Regions from separate parts of the Homo sapiens genome. Here all the other regions are linked to region 1. Evidence: fine-mapped expression QTL. A gene starts in region 1. Each other region holds a variant in brackets. All regions are shown on one strand. Distances are from middle to middle. Region 1 holds the start of GREB1 (growth regulating estrogen receptor binding 1). Region 2 overlaps GREB1 (growth regulating estrogen receptor binding 1). Region 3 overlaps GREB1 (growth regulating estrogen receptor binding 1).

What was found. PIP is the estimated chance that this variant, and not a neighbour inherited with it, causes the effect.
Region 2: its variant is fine-mapped to the expression of GREB1 in caudate (GTEx, PIP above 0.99). The same link has a PIP of 0.9 or more in amygdala, anterior cingulate cortex, cerebral cortex, hippocampus, prefrontal cortex and putamen.
Region 3: its variant is fine-mapped to the expression of GREB1 in memory regulatory T cells (Schmiedel 2018, PIP 0.95).

The regions. Positions count from the first base shown.
Region 1 is chr2:11,530,218-11,538,400 of GRCh38, forward strand. It overlaps GREB1 (growth regulating estrogen receptor binding 1), which reads left to right and starts at 3,828. Exons shown (of 33, transcript NM_014668.4): 1 at 3,828-4,037. RefSeq lists an enhancer at 7,922-8,183.
Region 2 is chr2:11,609,607-11,617,789 of GRCh38, forward strand. GREB1 (growth regulating estrogen receptor binding 1) reads left to right here. Exons shown (of 33, transcript NM_014668.4): 18 at 1,082-1,421; 19 at 2,889-3,004; 20 at 5,485-5,684; 21 at 7,025-7,114. Among named protein-coding and RNA genes, the nearest start is that of NTSR2, 56 kb to the right of the region's middle. RefSeq lists an enhancer at 6,619-7,119. The variant G/A (reference allele first, on the strand shown) is at 3,187.
Region 3 is chr2:11,550,381-11,558,563 of GRCh38, forward strand. GREB1 (growth regulating estrogen receptor binding 1) reads left to right here. Exons shown (of 33, transcript NM_014668.4): 2 at 6,074-6,391. The coding sequence starts at 6,235. It also overlaps the pseudogene TRG-CCC7-1. Among named protein-coding and RNA genes, the nearest start is that of MIR4429, 14 kb to the left of the region's middle. The variant A/G (reference allele first, on the strand shown) is at 3,745.

The DNA.
Region 1 (8,183 bases):
CACCCAGCTAATTTTTGCACTTTTTGTAGAGATGGGGTTTCACCAGGTTGCCCAGGCTGGTCTCCAACTCCTGGCCTCAAGTGATCCACCCACTTTGGCCTCCCAAAGTGTTGGGATTACAGGTGTGATCCAGTGCGCCCGGCCCTAGGTGATTCTTATGCACACTAAAGTTGATCTTTGCCAAATAGGAAAAAAAAAAAAAGTAAAATCTATGTTAAAATTTAGGTTAAAAGTTAAGTTACCAGGAGGCTGAGGCAGGGGAATCGCTTGAACCGGGAGGCGGAGGTTGCAGTGAGCTGAGATTGCACCACTGCTCTCCAGCCTGAGGACAGAGCGAGACTCGGTCTCAAAAAAAAAAAAAAAAAAAAATTAAGTTACAATTAAATCCATCATGTTGTTAAAATCATGAAGAGCAAGGGAAAAATAAACATAAAATTCAGGATGTGAGTTAATGGGGGGCAGGGATGGAGGACAAGAAGGGGACTTCAAAGACGATGATGAAGTGCACCTTCACCAGAACCTGCATGTGGTGCATGGTGTTCATCATATCATGAGTCTGTGCAACATACATACCAATATTCTTTTGTATCTACTTAAGTTTAATACACACAATTTTTAAAAAGGGGTTAGAGTGAGGGTTGGCCAATGTGGGAAGGCTGTGTGGGGGAAATAGGATCTGAGGCTGGCCAGGAAGGGTGGGGAAGTTTGGTGTTTGCGGAGCAGACACCGGCTCTCTCTGGCCAGAGAAGCCCTTTGTACAAGGCTGCCCATCCCAGTCCATAACTCCATTAACCCCCCCAAAACTAGCCTAGTGCCAGGGAGAAAGAGTTCCCTAGGTAGGTGGGCCTGTTTGGAGGGTGTGGGCAGGTGCCCTGGCTGCTTCCTGAGTGGCCTCAGGCCCTGTACTGGAGGTCAGCTCAGTCAGTGTCACCCAGGCCTGGGGATATTTGCTTCTATTTAGCTCCCAGTAGGTTCCCAGTTTACTGTGGGAGTGTAGTTGCTTGACGCATACAAGCAGATGTTGAGCTAGAGCCTAGGCTGCCAAGGAGCTGGTTTAGTTCAGACCACTAATTGTATAGAGGTTAAGTGACTTGCCTGCTGGAGATAGGCAGAGCCAGGTTGGTGCGACTCCAGCATTTGGTTCCTTTCATCTGTTCCACGTTGTGCAGCCTACAGAGAGATTCAAGCTTGACGGAATTTCATGATTATAATTTACCCCAAAAAAGCTGTTTATAAAAAATGCATGTGATCATTTGTAAAAAATTTAGAAAATACAGATGATTAGAAACAAGAAAAAAAAATTGCGTATAATTCTTGCTTTTATTTTATTTTTAAACATTTAATTAATTAATTAATTATTATTATTATTTTGAGATAGAGTCTTGCTCTGTCATCCAGGCTGGAGTACAGTGGCACCATCTTGGCTCACTGCAACCTTGGCATCTCGGGTTCAAGCGATTCTCCTGCATCAGCCTCCCAAGTAGCTGGGATTATAGGCACCTGCCACCATGACCAGCTAATTTTTGTATTTTTAGTAGGGACAGGGTTTCGCCCTGTTGGCCGGGCTGGTCTTGATCTCCTGACCTGAAGTGATCCACCCGTCTCGGCCTCCCAAAGTGCTGGGATTACCGCATGAACCACCGCACCTCGCCTAATTCTTGTTTTAAAATACCCACTGTTAACATTTTAGTGTATTTCCTCCCAGTCTTTTTTCTATGCATTTAAGAAAATTACAATTAGATTAGGTGTTAAAGATGTGAATGATACCGCTTTCTCTCTTTATATATACTTTTCTCTGCTTTCTACTATTGTTTCGTACTTTCTGTCATTTGAATATGCCATATTAAATATGTTGAAATTATCTTTGCTAAGGAGTCAACATTAGCAAGAATAAAGTGGGAAATGTTCATTTATTCCTGAAGAGTTTAGCAAAGATCATATATTCGAGTCATTAATTCTTGCTTCTTAACTGCTTGAAAATCAACCCGCGTATAGGAGCCCTTCATCAGTCAACACTCTCATGGCACTTATTTCTGGTAGGGGCCGGGAAACAGATGGGAAAGACAACTTCCTAGGAGCTCTGGTCTTGGAGCGAGGGAGGTTCATGAAAATTATACCTATGTTCAATTGTGGCCAATAAAATAAAGAAAATCAAGTGTGAATGGTTTCCTTGATCAGGGCTTGCTTCTGAAGGGCAGAGCTGATAACGTCCTCACTTTGAGCAAAAGCCACAAAGTAGTTATCTTTCCTTACGCCTTTAGTTTTTGTTTAAAGGTTCATTACGAACTTTAGCAGTGAAAAAAAGTGTGGCAACTGGGTCATTCTGACCTAGAAGCAACCAAAATACTTCTGATTGCCGCAGCAGACAATGATGAATCATACCTAAACAAGTTTGCTGCCTTTTCATTTCTGTGGGTCGTAATCAGACTCATTGTTTTGTAGCCAGTGAGACATTTGCAGCAGCATGTTTGGGTCTGTGGGAGGAGGGAGGCTTGCAGATCTTCCCAGCGATGTGTGTGCTTGTCCCCACTAGCGCAGTGGAAACAGTGTTCTTGTTATCCAGGTTTAAGCCCTGTTAGGGATATGGCTTGTCCATTGTCATCGTGATGATACTGCTTAAAGATATCCTTTGTTGAGCACCTGCCATATGGCAGACGGTGTAAAAGGTGCTTTACGGTCCTGGTGTCATGGAAAGCCTTCCAACAACCTTATGATAGAGGTATTATTATCTTCATTTTGCCAAGAAAACTGAGGCTCTGGGAAGTTAAGTCAGTCACATAGCCAGTAGATACCAGGCACCCATAAATGTTTGTTGAGTGAATGAATAAATGAAGGAATGAATGGCAACTCCAAACTAATGGGAGAGAAATGCAAGAAGAGAGAGACTGATCAACATGAGACAAAAAACTTGGTGCTACAAGTTAAGAGGTTTTGCACATCCCAATTATTCATTTTTGCAATTTTTAAGCTCCACTTTCAAATAGAGACGGGGATTGGGATGGGATTTCAATGCAGGCGAATAACACAAGACAGATGGAGGAATATGTTTATGATCAGCAAAGAGATCACTCATCTTGAAAAAAACAGATAAATGGGAAAACACTGAAGTGCCAGCCACAGTACTAAATACTCTACTACATTATCTCATTTAATCCTCACAAAGTCAGCTTTGAAGTCAGCACTGTTATCTCTGTTTATGGCTGAGGAAACTGGAGCTCAGGGAGTGAGGGAGGCTGTCCAAGGTCACACAGCTCCGGTGGGTGAGGGGGCAGGGACTGGACCCAGGCACACCCAGCTCCACAGCGTCCCTGAGACTCTGTAAACAGAAGCCGGGAACAACAATTTCATTATTTATGCTTGAATTTAATTTTGTGTTTGATGGAGGAAAAAATGGATGATACACAGATTGCTACCAACAAAACCCAACAATTGGTTCTTTGAGATTCTAGCTTAGTGCAGGGAGAAAGGCAAGCCGGTGATGAACGTTTTGGGGTAGCCAGAAACAATGAACTAGGGGTGACTGGTGTGAAATTCAGTTGTGTGGACCATATTTTCTAAACTAGAATCTGCACACCATGCTCTCCCGCCATGTTCTCCCCTAGGAGAAAATTGTAGCTTGCAGGCAGAAATGTAAACACATAATCAATTCTACTATAACTTGATATATGTGTTCCTAAAAATTATTGCACCATGCAAGATTGGGCAATAAAAACCGCAGGGTTTATGACGAATACAGGCTTAGGGCAACAGCTCTCAAAAACTTCATCAATGACACATTTTTTAAAAAGATAAAAACCTAATAAAAAGGGCAGCACCGTTTTACACATGCTAAATGGTTAAGAGATACATAAATACTGCAGTAGAGATGGGATTTTACCTCAAAGTGCAAAGGTAAATGAAATAAAGTTTTTTCAATGGAAGGCTTGCAGCTCTTGAGGACCTGCCAAATGGAAGAAGGACAGAGACCTGGAGCCCTATGGAAAGTTCTGACACCATGTGTGGAAGGACATGGCTTTTAACACGTGTGGTGACTGGAGGTAGGTGGTAGGTGCTTGAGGCTGGTGTGTGTGCGCCTTTTGTATATTCTCAAGCAGCTGGGGTCAGTTGGGCACCATTTTTCTGAACTTACTTTTGTGTTTCTTGCAGAGGAAATCACCAGGCACACACAAAACCCACAAGGTATTCAAATTGTTCTGTAATATGTCAATCTGTCCGTACAAATTTGCAGTTTCAAAACAAGCGTTATAGCTGAACTGACTGTATGTGGGAACATCACTGCAACTCTTGCTGACCCTGTGTGCTGAAGTGGGGAGCGTGCGGCTTTCATACCCCCAGCCTTTCTGCACAGCTCTTCAGTTTACCTGGGGGCCCCTCAGCAGTAAAGCCAGATCAACAGGCTCACCCGTGAGAGCTCCTCTTGTGTGATTGTTGAGTGGCTCAGTGATTGGGTTGGTTGGGAAACAGAGTGTGGCCCTCAGTCTTCCTGAGGATGGTAATTAGAGGGGGATGTGTGCTTCTTCTTCACATATACCTGGTTGTTCTCTGATTGCTTTGGTGTCTTTTCTTCTGTTTCTTCTCCTGGATGTTGTTTTCATGTTTCCTTCCTTAAGTGCTACATGACCCTTGGATTTTCATGTGTGTTTAAGAGTGAGGCAGAGAAGGTTGACTGGGAGTGTTGTGTCCACAGGGGGCGCTGGTGTCTGGCAGGTGTCACTTTTGGGGTGCTCAGGACAGAATCAGCTGGCATTCTGGAGGCCTCTGAATGCCAGACTGTGCGTTAGCGGCTCTAGTTCTTGTTGGTTGATTCAATTTGTATCAGAAGAGCTTTCGGTATTTTTTGCCTGGGGTGAACGCCTGGCTCCTGGGAGATCTGCATGTGGCCCTGGGGTGGGAGGTAGAGGAGCTACCTGCTCTGTAGACAGGATTTCACAGAAGACCCCTGGTCCCAGCGCTGCTGTGCACTCCTCCCAACACTTGTCTGGCGTATCTGAGTCTCTGCATTTCCTCAGGGCCAGTTGGTCCCCCCAGGTATGCACCCTTCTCCTGTGTCAGCTCCACATTCCCTCTCTAGTCTGGCTTCTGGAAGTTTATGAAACCTGAACCTCTAGTTAGCTAATGGCATCCCTTCCATCTTTTCATCACTGTGGCTTAAAATACCTCACCCCACTTATTTATTTATTTATTTATTTATTTTTAATTCAGTATCTTTTGAAGGTCATCTCAGGAAGGGCCAGGTACCATGTTGAATTAGAAGTTAATTCTCATACCATAATCTAAATGTCTGTTTCCATTAAACAGCATTTTTACAAGGAAAGGACTTTACTCTTCGAGTTTCCAGTGCCTGGCACACAGGATGACACTTAAAAAATAATAATAAATAAATAATAGAGAAATAAGGTGTGTGTTGATTGAAATACATTGATTGAGTTCTTTGGTTACTTCTAGGTCTGAGAGTCTAGGATTCGGTGATTCAAGGGGAGAGGCTGAGGAAAGTCTTTAACTAGATGGGAAGGCTTGGGTCCTTGGGTTTTCACGAGTATAGAAAAAGGTTGCATTAGCCCCACTTACATGATTTGTTTTATCTTCCCCACTTCCTGACCGTGCCCACTAAATCTCTGAAATCTCTGGGCTGTCTACATTTTGCCTGGATATGGATGTCGGAATTGTTCATCTTCTTTCTTCTTGCTGCCCTGAACTCTTTTTTTTTTCCCTGTAAAATGCAAACACTACCTTGTAAATAAACTCTTATCAGATACCTTCTATTTCCTAGGCACTGTGATTGGCCAAGGGCGTACATCTGCATGTTCTCTGCTCTCCTGGGGATCCCAGGCAGCAGGGGAGAGAGGGAAGCACACAGATTAACCATGGTCCTGGGAGACCACCGCAAGCCTGGAGCATACACAGGAGTGGTGGGGACACAAAGAGAATGCCCAGCTCAGTTTCGGGAGGTCAGAACCACCACACAATTGAAGAGATGCTTGAACTGGGTCTTGAGGGATGAGGCAGCGGGAACACAGCATGTGCAGAGTCGGAGGTGTGACAGGATACGGAGGCACTGCTTGTGCCCCAGGCAGTCAGCAACCAGGCAGTGCCAGCAGCACCAACCCCGCATGATTTGTCCCAGTAAAGCTTTGTCTTCTCTAGTGATCTGGAAACCTCTCAGGGAAACATTTTGTAAAAGCCAAGCCATATTTATTTATTAATGGTGGTTATATAGTTTCTAGAGCATTTTGTTGGATAGGTAGAGACTTTTCTGCTTTTTGAAAGTTATCACTCCTAGCCATTGTGGCCAAAAAGAGAAAAATGCCAAAAAGTGCCAAACTGTGGCTATGATTGTCATGTTTAATGTGGAGAGGATTTGGCCAGGGGTAGAAGAGCATTATGTATAGAATAGAACAAAGAGATTTATGGCAAGAAGAGATACTGGCATTAAGCAAAGAATTGCAGATTTAAACTGAGAAGAGAGCCGCACAGCAGATGGAGTTAACACTGGAGGTGAGCTCTCTCCTCTTTAGGTACCTCATTGCTATTTTCACATCAAAAGCCTATTTTTGACAGTAATTAGAAAGCATAGTGGGTTCAAAGTCATTGCAATTCACACCTAATGAAGGCAAACTTTGCTAATTTTCTCCTCATAATAGTAAGTTACATCAATTTTAAAAGTTAGCAATTTACAGCACAGTTGAAAGAAGCATGTTTTAAAAAACCTTGAATTCTTAGAGGCAAGTACCATAGATATTTTCTTTTTTTTTATTTTTCTTTGAGATGGAGTTTCACTCTTGTCGCCCAGGCTGGAGTGCAGTGTTGGAATTGTGGCTCATTGCAACCTCCTCCTCCTGGGTTCAAGAGATTCTCCTGCCTCATCCTCCCAAGTAACTGAGATTACAGGCACCCGCCACCGCGCCTGGCTGATTTTTGCATTTTTTAGTAGACATGGGGTTTCACCATGTTGGCTAGGCTGGGATTGAACTCCTGACCACAGGTGATTTGCCTGCCTTGGCTTCCCAAAGTCCTGGGATAACAGTCGTGAGCCACCGCGCCGGCCGACATTTTCTTTCAGTCCCTTTTACACATTTAATTTATTTATTCACAGGTGGCAAGCTTCATATTGGTAAGAATTGTTACTATTATCCTGGCATGTATAATATTATATATGTGCCAGGTACCATGCTAAGCACCCTATACATACTAATTATTAAATCCACACAACTCTAAGAAGCAAGTACTTTTCTCCCATTTTTCAGTTGGGGAAACTGAGGCACATAAAGGTTAAGTAACTTGCTCAAGGTCTAATATCCAGTAAGTGAAGATTCAAACCCAAACCTGGCTCCAGAGCCCATCATCTTAAAAACTCTACTGCTTAAACTCTCTTCCCTTCTCTAAAAATATAATAAATAGTATATACTATTTTAACATGTTATAAGTTTATATATTATATAAAAATATAAAAATATTTTATATATTATATATTACATAAATATCATATATTAGATAAATATATGATATTTATATAATATATAATAATATATAAATTTTATATATTTATAAATAAAATATACTATTTTAACATAAAATACATACATGTATTTTAATATATATGATCTCATATATAAGAATTTAAAATTATCCGCAGGATCTACCTATCTTTCTATACAGTAAATGTATCTTGCTGAATGTTGTATCCTAAGTGTGTCTGCATCATTGACAAACTCTTCATGCACATAGCTTTTATGCATTTATTGCAGGCTGTGTTAAGTATGCATTTTTTGCTGGGTATTTTGTTAGTTTCCAGTTTCCCACCGTCACACACGGTGCCCTGAGTGGCAGAAGGCACGGGGCACTCCACGTACAGACCGCGTACAGTGTGCCTCCCCAACGAGTAAAGCCCTGGCACTAGGGATGCTTCAGAGCTGCAGATGCTCGCTCGGGCAGAACCTCCAGCGGGTGCCACCCCTGCCTGGCGATGAAGGTGCAGGGATGGGTGGGGTCTCCACTGCCCTTTCTAGGGAGGCACTGCCCAGCCTGGGAACGAAGAAGCCCACCACACAAGTTCTACCCTTTAGCGCCTGGCAATTTTGGGGACTGAGCCCAGGAACAGCTGGGAACTCTCCTCCCTGACTGGGGCACCAAGAGGAGTAATCCACCTCTTTAACCTTTTTTTACAAAAGATAAATGACCTTGAA
Region 2 (8,183 bases), 79 kb after region 1:
TACCTTCCTAGACAGCCCTGGTAATGGCAAGCTTGCCAGGCCAGCTTCCAGCTTATGTGACCTGCGTAGTGGATGAAGTGCTGAAGGAAACATGAAGAAAAGGAGGAGGATGGTCAGGAAGAAGGAGCAGGGATGTCATCGCAATGTCAGAAATGCTATCAAGTGCTGTAGGAAGGCGAGCTGGCTGCCCTGATAGAACTCACAGGGTGGCATGGCCACGGTATGGTACTCATTTTTGTAGGTCGAGAAACTACCTTACCTTTGCTACAAAAAGCCAGAGTCAGGAGGACCCATTCCAGCTCAATCAACCCAGAAGAACATTGTGCATAAACTGGATACCAATTTATTTATTCACGTTGAGAAACACCATCATCTACAGGGACCTGGGCTTTTCCATTGGTGCCCTGGGGTCTGTGTGACTAACGGGTCAGAGCCACTCTAGGAGAGCAGGTGGTTGTGGGAGCAGCCACCACCTTTGTGTGGGGACACAGATAGTAACCACAGTTTCTGAAGCAAAAACTGGGATTCTTGATTTGGCTGGATATGTTCTGATTTGTAATTAGTCTGTCAAAATACGTTTAGTTATATTTCTAATAATTCACTGTGATCGAAGTGAACACAGAGATGGGCCTTTAGAACTCGGGCCTCCGGTAGCTGCATTTCCATATTGATTGCTGGTGGTTCTCCTGTTTCTAGTAGGAACCAGAGGCAACTTAGTCCCCTCCTCAGAGAGCTGCACATTGTGCTGATAGAGACAAAATAGGCATTTATACCATTTATTCATCTGCTCATTCATTGGACAAATATTTATTGAGCAGCTACTAAGTGCCAAATGCTGGAAAAACGTAATAACAACAAACCTATGTTTTTGTTTTCCAGCTGGAAAAAACAAAGGACTGTATAATTTGATTTCTAAAGAAGGCTTCTCATTCAGGTTCCCACAACCACCTTCCAGAGGCAACACAACTGCGTATAATGCCGGAGTTGCCTGTGGTAGAGTGACGGATGTCTTGGGTGACTTGGCAGCAGCAGGCCGGTGGGCGCGGCCGTCACAGACATGGTCTCTCTGTGTTCCTTGCAGGTTCCCCCGCCTGCACAGCGCGGTGATCAGGACCTTTGTTCTCGTGCAGCACTACGCGGCCGCCCTGATGGCCGTAAGCGGCCTCCCGCAGATGAAGAACTACACGTCGGTGGAGACGCTGGAGATCACGCAGAACCTCCTCAACTCCCCGAAGCAGTGCCCCTGCGGCCACGGGCTCATGGTCCTGCTGCGGGTGCCCTGTTCGCCCCTGGCGGTGGTGGCCTATGAGCGGCTGGCCCACGTGCGGGCCCGGCTGGCGCTGGAGGAGCACTTTGAGATCATCCTGGGCAGTCCCAGCTCAGGCGTCACCGTGGGGAAGCACTTCGTAAAGCAGCTCAGGGTAGGTGCTGTGCGCAGGGAGGGGCGGAGGGCCTGGGGGTACCTGGGAGAGCTGAGGGGCCCACCAGAGGCAGGGAGTGTCACGAACCCCACAGCGTGGCCAACGTGGCTTCCCTAGACCCAGCCACCCCTCAGCCTCCTCTCTGTGCTTCCCCACCTCTGCCCTCCGCCCCAGCAGCACCCCCACACCCCTGCAGCATTGCCTTATGACTTTAGACCTCTGGGCAACAGCCTGCTTTCTTTTTTCCTGGGCATCCATTTCCTCTCTTCTTTGTTTAGCTGATGCTTCTTTATTTTCCCCTTTGAGACAGGGTCTCACTCTGTGGCCCAGGCTGGAGTGCGGTGGCGTGATCACAGCTCACTGCAGCCTTGAGCTCCTGGGCTCCAGGGATCCTCCCACCTCAGGCTCCTGAGTAGCTGGAACCACCAGCGTGTGCCACCACACTCGGCTAATTTTTAAAATTTTTAAAATTTTCTCCATGTTGCCCCGGCTGATCTCAAACTCCTGAGTTCAAGCAACCCTCCTGCCTCAGCCTCCCAAAGTGCTGGGTTCCAGGTGTGAGCTGCCCTGCTTATTTTCTGCAGCACTTAGGTTGGTGTCTTTCCTCTTTCAGGAAGCCACCCTCCCCCTCTGCCATGCCCAGGGCAGTGCCATGCTCCCTGCCTGTCATCTAGCCCCTCTCCCAGATGGTGGGGGGCAATGGCCATCCCCACAGAACTCAGCCCCCAAAGCCTAGCACAGCGCCTGGCCCATAGTAGGTTCTCACTCAATCTGCAGGTGACAGAAAATGCAAAAGGTTTAGGGAAAGAACAAATGAGTGGAAAACAGGAATGAAAGGGAGGACACTGTCAGGAGAGAGCACAGGCAAGACATAAGGAACAGCTGGTTGGGCGCGGTGGCTTACACCTGTAATCCCAGCACTTTAGGAGGCCGAGGCGGGCGGATCACTTGAGGTCAGGAGTTCGAGATAAGCCTGGCCAGCATGGAGAAACCCTGTCTCTACTAAAAATACAACAATTAGCCAGATGGGGTGGCGTGCGCCTGTAGTCCCAGCTACTCGGGAGGCTGAGGCAGGAGAATCACTTGAACCCTGGTGGTGGAGGTTGCAGTGAGCTGAGATTGCGCCACTGCACTCCAGCCTGGGTGACTCAGCGAGACTCTGTCTCAAAAAAAAAAAAAAAAGACTTAAGGAGCAGCTGACAACATAGACTTCCTTTCACGGAGCTGGTCAGCTGATAGAGATGTCTTGGACATGCTCTGGCTGGCTAATCTCCATGTTCTAGCCGACTGAAAATACGGTGGCCAAGTGGATGGTGTGCTTATTTGCAGTCTAAAGAAATTTCCTTTTGGTCAGAAGATATAGTTCAAGGAGTTTAAATTGGTGTGGGAGGCCATCAGGATTCCTCTGAGCTGGGCTGGTTGGGAAGGGAGGCGTCTGTGGCTTTATTTCTTTTTCGTTATCTGCAGATGTGGCAGAAAATTGAGGATGTGGAGTGGAGACCCCAGACTTACTTGGAGCTGGAGGGTCTGCCTTGCATCCTGATCTTCAGTGGGATGGACCCGCATGGGGAGTCCTTGCCGAGGTGAGTGGAGGGGTTATGCCCCTGGGGGTCTCTGAGGAGCTGGCTGCCTGGGCCCCCTCAAGGAGCATGTCAGGGGGGCTGCTGTGCCCTGACGGTAGGCAGCACCACTCACATTCACAGGCCCCGTGGGTGGGGCCTTCATCGTGGCTTTCCCAGCATGGGCCTGAGTGCGTCTGAGGCCC[G/A]TGCCCCTTCTCCTGATTCTCAGAAAGGCGCTGTTTGGGCTCGTGGTGACGGCTGTTGCCAGGCTCTACGGGTGGAGGCTCTGCAGGTGGAGTCAGGATTTCATGCCTCCTGAGTTCAGTGTCTCCCCATGGGGCGCTCTGTGTGTGCTGGGGATGGCAGTTCTGCTTGGGACAGTACGGCATCCTCTCCAGGAGTTGCAGCCACAGTTCCTGCTGGTACCTAGGCTGCCGCAATGCCTGGGCCCTCCCGGCTTAGGAGGCGTTCTGGGAGTGGAGGCAACTGACGCTGCTCGGGAAGAGCTGGTTCTTCCAGCACAGAGTGGACTGTCTCAAAAGATGTGTCCCTCTGAATCCATCACAGCCTGGAAAGTCTTAGCCACATATCCACTCGATGTCCGCTGGTGTGGGGGGTCTCTAGGCCACCACACAGACATGCGGACACTCGAGACTCAGGTCCCTGGGCCTCCTGTAAGGCAGTTTCTTGGATTGGTAGTGACAGATTGGGTTTTAGAGACTTCATACCGGTGGAGAAGAGCAGACGGCCAGCAAAAGATAGCAAAAGCCGACATCAGTGGAATTCCTGTTATGTTCTGGGAACTGTCCTAGATTCTTCTTTTAGGTTTTATTTCATTTTACTCTCACCTTAATCCTGGGGGAAAGGTGCTATTTCAGTAGTCCCATTTTACGGATGAAGAAACTGAGGCTTACTGAGATTAAGCCAGTCTGGCCAGCAGTGGGCCTGGCTTCTTCCCCCAGGAGCACCCCACACTTCAGCAAACGGCCCTGTGCATGCTGCATACTCATGGGCCAGGGGAAGGGGGCTCCAGAACATTTGACCTTGCTTGTTGCTATTTCACATGGATTAATTCTTTTCTTCTTCAACTCCTTAAGGACTGAGACAATGTCTTAATCTATTTTAAATTTTAGCAAGCATTTGCTGAATACCAGGTACCTTCTGGTACCTTCTTTGTACCAGGCATCATGATAGACTTTTCATATGAAACTTACTCCTTGCTGCAGTAGTATTACCATCCTGTTTCATGGTTGAGTCAATGAACGATCATTTGCTTGAGGTCATGAGCAGTAAGTTTCAGAGCCCCACTGGAACCCTCACGTACCCCTCTCTAAGCCCTTTGCCTTGGTTGTGTTTCTGCTGCGCAAGTCTGAGCACGGGGTTGGCCTTTCCTCTGCTGCTCACAGATAGCATTGCTTGTTGGTGTCCGACTTGATTGCCATCATATTTCTAGCATCTAGTACCCTGGCCTGTGTTCACTTGGATTGAATAATTAAATGCTCACTGATTACATTTAATCTTTATCACAGCGGACTTAGATTTTTTTTTTTTTTTTTTTGAGACGGAGTCTCACTCTGTTGCCCAGGCTGGAGTGCAGTGGTGCAATCTCAACTCACTGCAGACTCCGCCTCCTGGGTTCAAGTGATTCTCCTGCCTCAGCCTCCCGAGGAGCTGGGATTATAGGCACCTGCCTCCACACCCGGCTAATTTTTGTATTTTTAGTAGAGATGGGGTTTTGCCATGTTGGTTAGGCTGGTCTTGAACTCCTGACCTCAAGTGATCGGCCCGCCTTCGCCTCTCAAAGTGCTGGGATTACAGGTGTGAGCCACCACGCCCAGCCAGATGGTTATTAATATTCATTCCCATCTTTCAGATGAAAAAATCAGAGCCTCAGAGAAGTTGTGCAGCTTGTCACGGCTTCTGTCGCTAGGAAGTAGCAGAGCTCAGGTTCAAGCCCCCCCTTTTTGTTGTTGTTGTTGTTGTTTGTTTTGTTTTGAGATGGAGTCTGGCTCTGTCGCCCCGGCTGGATTGCAGTGACACAATCTCGGCTCACGGCAAGCTCTGCCTCCCGGGTTCACTCCATTCTCCTGCCTCAGCCTCCCGAGTAGCTGGGACTACAGGCGCCCGCCACCACGCCTGGCTCATTTTTTGTATTTTTAGTAGAGACGGGGTTTCACCGTGTTAGCCAGGATGGTCTCGATCTCCTGACCTTGTGATCCGCCCGCCTCGGCCTCCCAAAGTGCTGCAAGCCCCTTTTTTATCTGACCCAAAAGTTAGTGCAGCACAGAGCTAAATGCATAGTGGGTGTCCCCAAAGATTTACTATTATACTGAATTTGTTGCTGCAAGCTCCCAGTAACACTGTTGGCTTTTCCACTTGTACGAGTCCTTGGGTCCTCACCAGGAAGGTGGGGTGTGGTCCCGATCAGTGCTGCCTGCCGCAGTGGGAACAGCACTCCACTTGTGGAAGGCACTAAACAGACACCTTCTTCTGTGTCTTGCTAGGTCTTTGAGGTACTGTGACCTGCGATTGATAAACTCCTCCTGCTTGGTGAGAACAGCCTTGGAGCAGGAGCTGGGCCTGGCTGCCTACTTTGTGAGCAACGAGGTTCCCTTGGAGAAGGGGGCTAGGAACGAGGCCTTGGAGAGTGATGCTGAGAAGCTGAGCAGCACAGACAACGAGGATGAGGAGCTGGGGACAGAAGGTGAGGGATGGCTGCCCTCAGCCTACTTGTCCCTGTCTGCATGTCTTTCTTGGCTTCTGAGCTTTGAGGCTGCCTGTGCTTATGGAGACAGCTGTCTCCAGTTCAGCAGGGTCCTGGGACCTGTCTGCTGGACAGCGGCTCTGGATGAGAGGTCTCCAGTGTTGGATGAAATGGCAGAGCTCTCACTGAATTCAGATTTTGTTTGTTTTCTCCCCATCTCTTTTGGTGGTGTGAGAAAATGGAAATCCCTATAGGTTTTTCCTAGTTCTAGAATTCTTAAAGAATAGGAAGAAAAATTAAGATTTCTTAGAGTTCAAGTTCAAAATTTCTTAGAGTTCCTCGTTCCACTCACTGGTGGAATTCCCACCTAGTGTGATTTGCTTGTTTATTTCCTCTGTGAATCAACCCAACAGCGTGCTGTCCATTTTTAAGAAGTGTGAAAACAGGCTCATTTGCAGACTCTTCAAATCTGATGCCGCCTTTTTAATAGGACACATAAATGATAACATCGCAAGGCATTGACTATAGTCAACAATGTGATGAGAAAGACGTAGACAGTCATTCAAAAACTAGAAAGCATTTGTGGAGTGTGTGGAATGGAAGGAGGTGGGTGTGGGCACCAGCGCGGGTCTGTGGTCTGCCTTGTCTGTCTTGACTGTGGGACCTCTCTTAGCCTCAGCTTGCTCGTCTGTAAAATGTAGATGGAAAGGCCTGCCCGCCTGTAGCCATCTTTTCGAAGCACGGCAGAGACTCTGATTTAATTCTTTCATTTGTGAGTATCTGCTGCACGTCTCCGTGCTCCCTGGCATCTCAGGACCCCCTTCTTTAGTTTCACCATCTGCTTCTCTCTACCCATAGCCCGCATTGCACTGAGCACTGGCCCACGTTAAACTTGCAGTGGCCGGGCTGTGCCCTGCCCTTCTGGCCTCTGCGCTGCACGGCTGCCCTTCCTGCTGCTCAGAGTTTTCCTTTCTCTACTTTACCTGCAAAACCCTGAGGCCCTTCAGGGCGACGGCCAGATGCCCCCCTCTTCCAGGAGATGCCCTGCTTTTCCCCCAGGCTCCCCGACCCCTCTCTCTTTGCATCTCCTCCACCAGCTTGCAGCTGTGCCTCATGGGCAGGAGCCTTCGCTGCACCCAGAGTGCCTCCCTGCACTGCAGCCCACTCCCTCCTGTCTCCTCAGTGCTCTGTCCATGGTGGGGGCCTGGAAGATGGCAGTGAATGAGTAAATGGATGGGGAGAGGTGATGCATGGGAACACACTTTACACACTGTGAAGTGCTGGGCAAATGTCAGGAATGGTGATTTCGGTGCATTCTCAGCGTGTGTGTTTTGGAACAGGCTCTACCTCGGAGAAGAGAAGCCCCATGAAAAGGGAGAGGTCCCGCTCCCACGACTCAGCATCCTCATCCCTCTCCTCCAAGGCTTCCGGTGAGTCTTCCCACACGGGAAGGACCAGACCAGCAGACTGATTTTTGAGGTTTCAGAGAATGAAAAGAAACCTATAGAGGGCTATTTGCTGATCCTTTATTTTCCATCAGAACTGGAAAGATAAGGAAATCTTTGAAGTGCTAGACTCTCTAGAGAGTAAATATTGTGGTCAACTTCGGATCGGAGAACTTGAAGACTGAGCAAGACTGTAGGGTTCTGCTGCCCCTGTGCTCAGGGGAGGACCGTGGACCCTGCCCCTCACTGTGGCTGGGGCCTCAGGCTGAGTCCTGGCCGTGTTAGGGGCGGGTCCCCGGGTGTTCTCCCTGCCGTTGTTGGTTTGGGAAAACCCTGTGCCCTGTGGGGAGAGGAGCTGAGCGCAAGGAGAGAAGTAGACATGGAGACTTCACTGGGGGAAGAGCAACAAAAGGCAACACAAGCTCATGAGCCTTCCGCGTAGCCACAGCCACAGCGGGTGGGCAGTGCCAACCACAGGCTCCACACGGTCTCTGCCCTAAGGGGTTCCTCTGTCTCCGAGAGTAGTCAGGATCCCGCAGAGGAGGGCAGAGCCCCTGGTGAGAAACAGAGGCCCCGGGCAAGTCAGGGGCCACCGTCGGCCATCAGCACGCACAGTCCCTGTCTTTCCGCCAAAAGCATTCTGAGGGCCTACTTGCTATCTGGATCAGCACTGAAGGATAAATGAGATGTAGACCTGACCTCAGGGAACGAACTCATTGTTCTCATAAAAGACGTGTTATTTTGCAGTAGTCTTTTGCACACATTTTCACTTCACATATGAAGAAGTCTGTAATTTTGTCCCAAGGCAGAGGGCAGATTTCAGGGTAGGTGAGGTTACCACAGGTTTGAGAGAGCAGCTGACCCTCAGTCGGGCCTTGCGGAAGGTGTTGCAAGTGCAGGAAGCCTTAAGGGCCGAGAGGCTCAGGGGCGAGACGTGCAGGGCCTGGGTGCGGGGACGGGTGTGTGCGGTGGCCGCAGGCTCCTGTTGTTGGGGCCGGGGGTGTGCCTAGCTGTGGCTGAGGGAGCGGCTGAGAGTCCCTGCTGTTTGGTCTGG
Region 3 (8,183 bases), 20 kb after region 1:
AGGAATGAGAGAAGGGACATTGCGTCATTTGAGTCAATTTCCCTGTTTTCACCCTTGCATCTCATATCTGTTGCCAGCTATGTCCAAGAGTCCAGATTCTCTTTGGTTTAATTTGTCCTGAGTAAACTTCCAGACTTCTGCAGAGAAGGGGAAAGGGCTGCTCGGGAAGGGAGAGGGAGTCCTCCCACTCTTCAGCCCTACTTTTCACCTTGTTGCCTGGAATTCCCAAGCCTTCTCTGGGTTCTGTGCATTTGAATCAGTTTGCTCCTCAGGAGGCCTCACCCAGTTCAGGACTGGGCTTGGAAAGGACACTTTCCAAATCTAGCCCTACTTCTCGTCTGCTTTGAAAATGCTAACTTTTGTTGGCATATCTTGTCTGCCGTGATTTTCTCTCCTGTCTCTTTGTCTTTGGGTCCTTATACCTGCACATTCCTTCACTGTCCTTCTAGTGAGGTTTTGAAGGGACTAGAGACAATGCATGTTCTCCATCTGTCCCATTTCACCAGAAGCCTCCTCTCCTTTCTTTGTCCCCGCCTTTAATAGTTCCTTATCTTCCTTGAAGCTTCTGCCCTGCACTTATTCTAGTTGAACTTCAACTCAACCTAAAAATTCTCATTCTACCCGAGTCCTCTAAAGGACACAGATTTACTGGTACCATGGGAAGAGAATAGCTCAGGTCAATGTCCCAGCCACCTAGAGCATGTTGAGCTAGCTCACTGTTGCCACTTCAAACTGACCTGGGTCAGTTGGCTTCATCTGGTCAAGCCCATGGTGCTTCTGGGATCAGAAGGGCCAGTGGAAGTTAGGTACTGGTGCTGTGATTTGAGCTGACATGGAGCTATGTTTGAGGTTGATATGGTGAAACAAACCCACATCTGATCACCTCCCATGAAGCCCACCAGGCAACCAGTTGAATCTCCACGTAGAGAGTTTCCAAGCAACTTTTTGTGCCTCACTCTTAAAGATAAGCAGATATCAAAGGTCCTATTGAAAGAGTGTCTGCCCGGCCTCCTGCCTGCAGGTCTTCCCTCCAGTTTTATCCTAATCATTTCTGTCTGATTGACTGGCATTATCTTTACTATCATCGGTCTCTAGCTCTGCGGGTCCAGGGAGTGTCTGTCGCCTATACAATGTCTGATTTTCACCCTTGGGTTTGTTTTTGTTATTCTATCACTGTGTCATCTTGTAAACCATTTACTCTTAGGCAAATGAACTTACTTCTTTTTCTAGAGTATGTCTGTTCCCTTGGAGTTTTCGTGCCTTTGCACTCTCCTGTCCCTTCCTCAAATGCTGTTCTTAGTTTTTTTTCCAAAGACATCCTACTCAGTGGTCTAGTGGTTAGGATTCAGCGCTCCCACCGCCGCAGCCCGGGTTCGATTCCCGGTCATGGAACCAAGAAGTGGAGCAGGACGAGCCGTGGCCAAAAATATCCTACTCAGCCCTCCTGGCCTGCTTCCAGTACCAGCCCCATTGTAAACCAAGTTCTCACTGATTTCTCCCCTCTTTTAAGTTGTAGCACTTATGGACAATAGTGCTTTTTTGTCACTTGTCATTTATAATCTGAAATTCTTTTCCTGTGAATGCTCAGATTTAACTAGAAATTAATGATTACGCACTGACTATACTCCGTCTCTCTTACTGTCCGTAACGAGCAATCAGTTTTTCTAAGTGCCCATTTTACAGTTGAGAACACCAAGGCCCAGTGATTAAATCACTTTGCGTGGGGTTGCGCATGCTGTTTACAGACTAGTACAGCCAGGCTTTTGTGCATTAAGGTGAAGGCTGTTGTTCGGCCATCATCACTGCCCTGATGGGCACTGCTTCAGATTCTGTAGTTGAAGAGCATCACACACCAGCCTGGAGAGAAGCTGGTCCAGGCCTTGGAATGCAGGCGTTGGATGTGATGTGTTAGGGCGTGGAAGAAATCCCACAGGCAGTCTGCAGAGTTGAATAACTGCAGCAGGGATCTAGCAAAGAGACCACGGACAGAGAACGAGTGGTCAGGGCCAGCCCAGGGAAAGAAGGACCATCCCAAGGAGGCCTTTGATAGGTGTTGTCTCCACTCCATGCGGCATTTGGGAGGATTGAAGCTTTAGTGTGTGACCTTGAACTAGGCTCTTCCCTGTCTGGGTCTTTAGTTCTCCACTGGTCAAATGACGGATTCCAGTGGGTCAGAGAGCTCCAGATGTACCTCCGCGGCAGGACCGGTCTGGCCCAAACCTTCCTCACCCAGCAGGTGTGGCTTTGCAGTCAGGGTCTGTCTGTAAGATAGAGCACTGCCATGGTATCTAGAAAGTCCCCACACTGTTTGGTTGTGGCCACAATGGAATAACAAAAAGAGCCGCAGTTGGCCGGGCGCGGTGGCTCACGCCTGTAATCCCAGCACTTTGGGAGGCCGAGGCGGGCGGATCACGAGGTCAGGAGATCGAGACCATCCTGGCTAACACGGTGAAACCCCGTCTCTACTAAAAATACAAAAATTAGCCGGGCATGGTGGCGCACGCCTGTAGTCCCAGCTACACGGGAGGCTGAGGCAGGAGAATGGCGTGAACCCGGGAGGCGGAGCTTGCAGTGAGTCGAGATCGCGCCACTGCACTCCAGCCTGGGCGACAGAGCGAAACTCCGTCTCAAAAAAAAAAAAAAAAAGAGCCGCAGATTTGAATACTGTTGCAATGCCTCCTCATTCTTCTTTAGTGGTATGTACTTATTGTTCTGATGTCAAATGCGTCATTTGGGATAGGGAGTGGTATTTATTTTTTCTTTCACTATTTGCTTACAGACATTAAAACTTTGATGTTTGTTTAGGGCTATAAAATAAAGTTTTAATTTTGTGAGTATGAAAACTTTACTGGGCGGGCATGGTGGCTCATGCCTGTGGTCTCAGCACTTTGGGAGCTCTCTTGAGCCCAGGAGTTCGAGACCAGCCTGGGCAACATGGTGAAACCCCGTCTCTACAAAGAATGTGAAAATTAGCTTGGCATGGTGGTATGTTCCTGTAGTGCCAGCCACTTGGGGAGGCTGAGGTGGGAGGATCAGAGGTTGCAGAATCGAGATCATGCCACTGCACTCACTCCAGCCTGGGCAACAAAGTGAGATCCTGTCTCAAAAAACAAACAAACAAAAAACCCCACTTTTCTATGCTGTCTTGTTTTTAGCTTCTCTGTCTCTTTCTCCATCTTTCCCCCATTCTATTTTTTTTTTTTCAGCAAGCGTTTCTGCCGGCTATGTATCTCTAGATTCAAATGTATCATTTATAAAATGGGCTTCATCATACCTCTTCCATGGGCTACCATGTGTGTGAAGTAGGGAGTGTGCCCAGTGTCTTGCACGCAGTGGCTGGACAGTGGATATTATTTTTCCTTCTTCATTTTTATTGCCCCGTCTACATCAGGCCTACATGTCCCTTCGCTGCTGGAGTCTCCTGGGTGCCAATCAGCTGTGAGGTCAGCTGAACAGGACCTTGGGCAGGGAGGGTCTGGATGCCCCGATGTGTTCTTTCTGTCAGAGGACATGATTCTTCAGGGGCTCCATGTAAAACGAGTCCACCTTAAAGCTTCTTCCTGTGTGCCTTAAGCTCTATAGACAAAGATGCTATGGAAACAGAGGGCATTTGGGATGTTATTCGTTGGTGGCAGCTTTAAACACACCACCCTGAGTTGAGAATAATGCAGGTGTCCCCAAATGTGGCTGGCAACCCCTCAGTCACATATTAAAGTCTGCCACAGATCGAGAAAAAAGGCAGAC[A/G]AGAGGACCCTGCAACCTCTTCTGCTCTCCTGTTAGGTTACTCCGGCTGCTGACCTCTCTCTTTCAGGAGCACTTTCTTTTTGTTGGGGCTAATTCCTGAAGCAATCTTCCCACAGCTCATTTCCCCAGGCTATAAGCAGAGGCTGACCAAGGGGCCCTGTGGTCAGAAGTTATTGCCACAAGCAGGAAGTGGTTAATGCCTTCCATTTACTTTTAGTTGGAAGAGGAAAGGCTGAATCTTTCTTACAATAGGGGCGGGAAATCAACGTGACTCTACCAGTTATTATACCTTCGGGAGGGAAAGCAGAACTCTTTCAGGGCATGAAGGATGACATCTTGAAGCTACTCTGCCACCAACAGAACAAGGACGAGGGGAATTTATTACACATGGCTTGAGTTAGAGTGAATGGGAGATCTCGCTTGACCGATGAAGCCAGTTTCATAACTGGTCTGTGTGCAGTAATTGTAGATGAAGGCAGGAAACTGCTATTCTGTGGTCATTTCAGTGCAGGCATCTGGTGCCATTTTGTATGTCAAATGTTACTTTAAAGATGAACAGGCTAGTAGACAAGAGACATACAAGGATATAGAACAGTTGAATAATCTGATTGATTTCCTTTCATCCCTTGTAGAGTTTACGAATGTCTTTTCTCATATCTGTAAAACTCCAGCAGGTATATGTCAAAAAGAAACCCTTAACAAGTTTCAAAAGTAGAGTTTCTAAAGACCACAGTCTTGATTATAATCTATTAAAAACTGGAAATAAATAATATGAAGCTGAAGTCACCCCCCATTGCTGTCTTGACTGTTTAAAAATTAAACACACACTCCTGTATAATTAACGGATCAAAGAGGGAATCAGAGGGAAATGATAAACTGTCTAGAAAGAAATGAAAAGGAGAACACTTCATACTAAACCTTGTACCATAGCAAAGGAGGTGCCCAGAGAATAACGTATAGCCTTAAATGTCTTCGTTGTTAATGAAGATGAAAACTAAAGATGACAATAAAGTAACTATTTTGAAAAGTTTGGAAAAAGTACAAGTTAAACCAAAGGGAAATAAAGAGAAATATAACAAATAGCTAAATGTAATGAAATAGAAAATAAATGGAAAACATTATGGACATATACACATTTAAATGCCTGTTCTTGGGAAGGACTGAAAATAGAAATTTAACCCTATGTATGATCAGGGAGAAATGTCAGAACAAATATCAGCATTTTCACTCAATGGAAGCAGCCATTAAAATTGTTCTAAAAACATTTGCAAGAGGGTTGAGCGAAATGCTTATGTCAAGGAAAAACAAAAACAATAAAAATGTGTATTATAGTATGATTATAATTATGTGAATACAATCTCCCATCCCTTCCCATCTGCAAGTTCTGAAGAGAATTAAGTCTAAAACAATACATCAAAATACGTGAGTGGGAATGAAGTATTGATTCATGCTAAACAGATGAATCTTGGAGACATTGTGCTAACGTTAGATAGAAGCCAGTCACAAAAGACCTCGTACTGAATGATTCCATTTATACAAAGTATCCAGAATGAGCAAATCTATAGAGACAGAAAATAAATTAATTGTTGCCTCCAGCTGGAGGGGTTGGAGGGTTGCAGAGTGATAGGTCTGGGGTTTCCTCTTGGGGTGATGAAAGCATTCTAAAATTGATCGTATGATAGTTACACGACACTGTGAATATACGAAAAACCATTGAGTTGTCTACTTTAAGTGGTAAGGTATGTGAATTATATCTCAATTAAGTTGCTACAGAAAAAAAGTCACAGTGGTTCTCTGTGATTTTTGGGGGGATAGAAAATAAATCTCTTGGGGGATAGAAATGTCAGTGATTTTCCTCGTTTTCCCACTCCTCTGTGATTTCCAGGTTTTCCAGATATAATTCTGTATTACTTGAATCATGGAAACATTTAGTAGATTAAAAAACATTTTAAAGGAAGAATGAGAATAATCAGCCTTTTACCAGCAAAGACAATGGTGGGAGACCTGCTAGCCTATCTTCTGGGAAGGTGGGGGAGGCCGGCTCCTCTAATCCTCAAATCTGGGACTGGTTTTGGTGGATCGCTCATTTGCCGTCACTTACAAGAGTGTTGGAGGGCCATTCGTCTGCAGGTCATGGAAAATGAAACGTCATTCGTCTGGGAACTCTCAGGGGCAGGACCACATCTCTGGGAAAAGTGGGAGTCCTGTGAAACCTGGGGATGGCAAAAGAGGCAGCTCCTAGTGAAACAGTCTAAGAGGTGTCAGGCTCTGCTGAGTGCTAAATTAGAGAAAGCTGTTACTTATATAACTTCCTGTAATTGCCCGGCAGTAGCTGCAGCTGAGGACAGCCACCCTTTCTTCGTCTCTGCTGAGCGAAGGCTACACGGCCCTTCCTCCTTGCAGCTGTTTCACCTTCTACCTTGCGTGGAGCCAGGCTTTTGCACCGAATCTGAGATGCCATTTTAAACAGAAGACTCCATCCTCTTGAAGATGGGAAATTCTTACGCTGGACAGCTGAAGACGACACGCTTTGAAGAGGTCTTGCACAATTCCATCGAGGCATCCCTGCGGTCCAACAACCTGGTGCCCAGGCCCATCTTTTCCCAGCTGTACCTGGAAGCTGAGCAGCAGCTTGCCGCTCTAGAAGGTGGGAGACGCACGTTGCTTTTATCTGTGTATTTCTTTTATTGTGCGCAGTTAATGTTAGCACCAGAACTTGAAACTCTTTTCTTTATGTAGATAACGTTGAATCTAGCAGAAAAGAATTATTAGAAAAAGAAAACTGGGTACAAGTTCTTACTTTGGCTAAAATGTAAATAAGTTTCAGCCATAAAATTGCAAGAAGTAAAATTATTCATTGAATCAGTAGGAGAAAGGAAGAGGACAAATTGTTCTCAATCGGTTGTTACTTATGCTCTTATTAGAAGGTTTGACATTTTCACTTGGAAAAGCAAGGAATTTTAACATGCTTTTGACCCTCAGCAATATATTCCTTTTCTTTGTCCTGTGATTTGTGGCTATATCTTTGCAAAGTAATAGTAGGTATGAGAACTCTCAGAAACTTTTAAAAACCAAAAGCAAACATTATAAATTTAATATATGCCAAGAATAAACAACTAAATTCTCTTCGGGCATAGGGATGACTTTTTAGAGTTTATTTAATTATGCAGAGATTGAAATGATTGTTTTTTATAGCTGTGTGTTTTCATTTCAGAAGTAACCCCTCAGTGATCCATAGTATGAGATAGCTCTGTTATGGAAGTTCTTTTTGTAAGTTGATGTCTTTGACTTGAAGTTACCCGCAGACTTCTCTTAGTTATTGAAGTGAAAAGGGGCTATACTTTAAAACAAAAATTAATAAACTAGAATTAACGAAGAAAGCACTGAGTGAGCCAGGTCTTGTGCTGGGGTGGTCTTGCTGTGCGTGAGTGTGTATGTGGAAGGGGATGGTTGGGTTGGAGAGAATTGCACCTAGAGAAGAACGAGGTGTGGAGGTGCTTGTCTTCAAGGGGCCCCACACTGAGCTTGTGTGAGATCTGATAGTTGCTTATTCTAGCAGGAGGCATTTCTGTGTCATTGTTTAAAACATCCTTACTAAATTAACCTTGCAAATGGCCCTTCTAAACCCCTGGAAGAACTGGATGTGGGTCTGAGAGAAACTAGACTGTGGTCAAAACCATGCATTAGGAAAACCAAGAATTCGCTGGCATTCACATCAAAAGCACTGATGTTTTCTGGCATGGGAGACGTCACTGTGATTTTATGGGGAGCCGAGAAATGGCTGGAAAGTATTTTATGGACTGTTTTTGGCCAGTTGAAAGACTTTGGTGGAATATGAATTACCTGGTCATCCTCTACATCTATAGTATTGAAGAGCTTTGTGGCTAATTATGGATTAATAATAGTGATATTGATGGTAATGTTTATTTGAATGATACCTTAAAATCCACAAAGTGCTTTCACCTCACAAGCTGAAGTAATTGAATTCTGTGATTTGGGAAGATGGAAGGGTGGCTTGCTGGAAGCTTGAGTGACTGAGCAGCAGTTGCATACTCAGCTTTGGCCAAGCTCTGAGATAAAAAGGGGACAGACAAGGGCTTGAGTAGACTCAGGGCTGCCCACAGCGGGAGAGAGGAGTAGAAAGCCCTTTGAGGATTCCAAATTAGCTTTCCCTCCTGTTGAAAGATCTTGATAGTTGCTTTCTGCCCACCTTTAACTGGGAGGCTGTGTCTGACATTCCGACAGCTCAGGGTGCCCTTATCTGCTGTTGGACATGTGGCACTGTCCAGGGACAGCGCTGAGGCTTAAGCCTTCATTCCTCCGGTGCTGCGGTTGAAGGTTCCCTGCCAGCTGTCAGCCGGCTTGTCCAGCTCCACGTTGGTATGAAAACTGGAACAAGCCCTATGATTTTCCCATTTGTCCGACAAACAGAAGAGAGA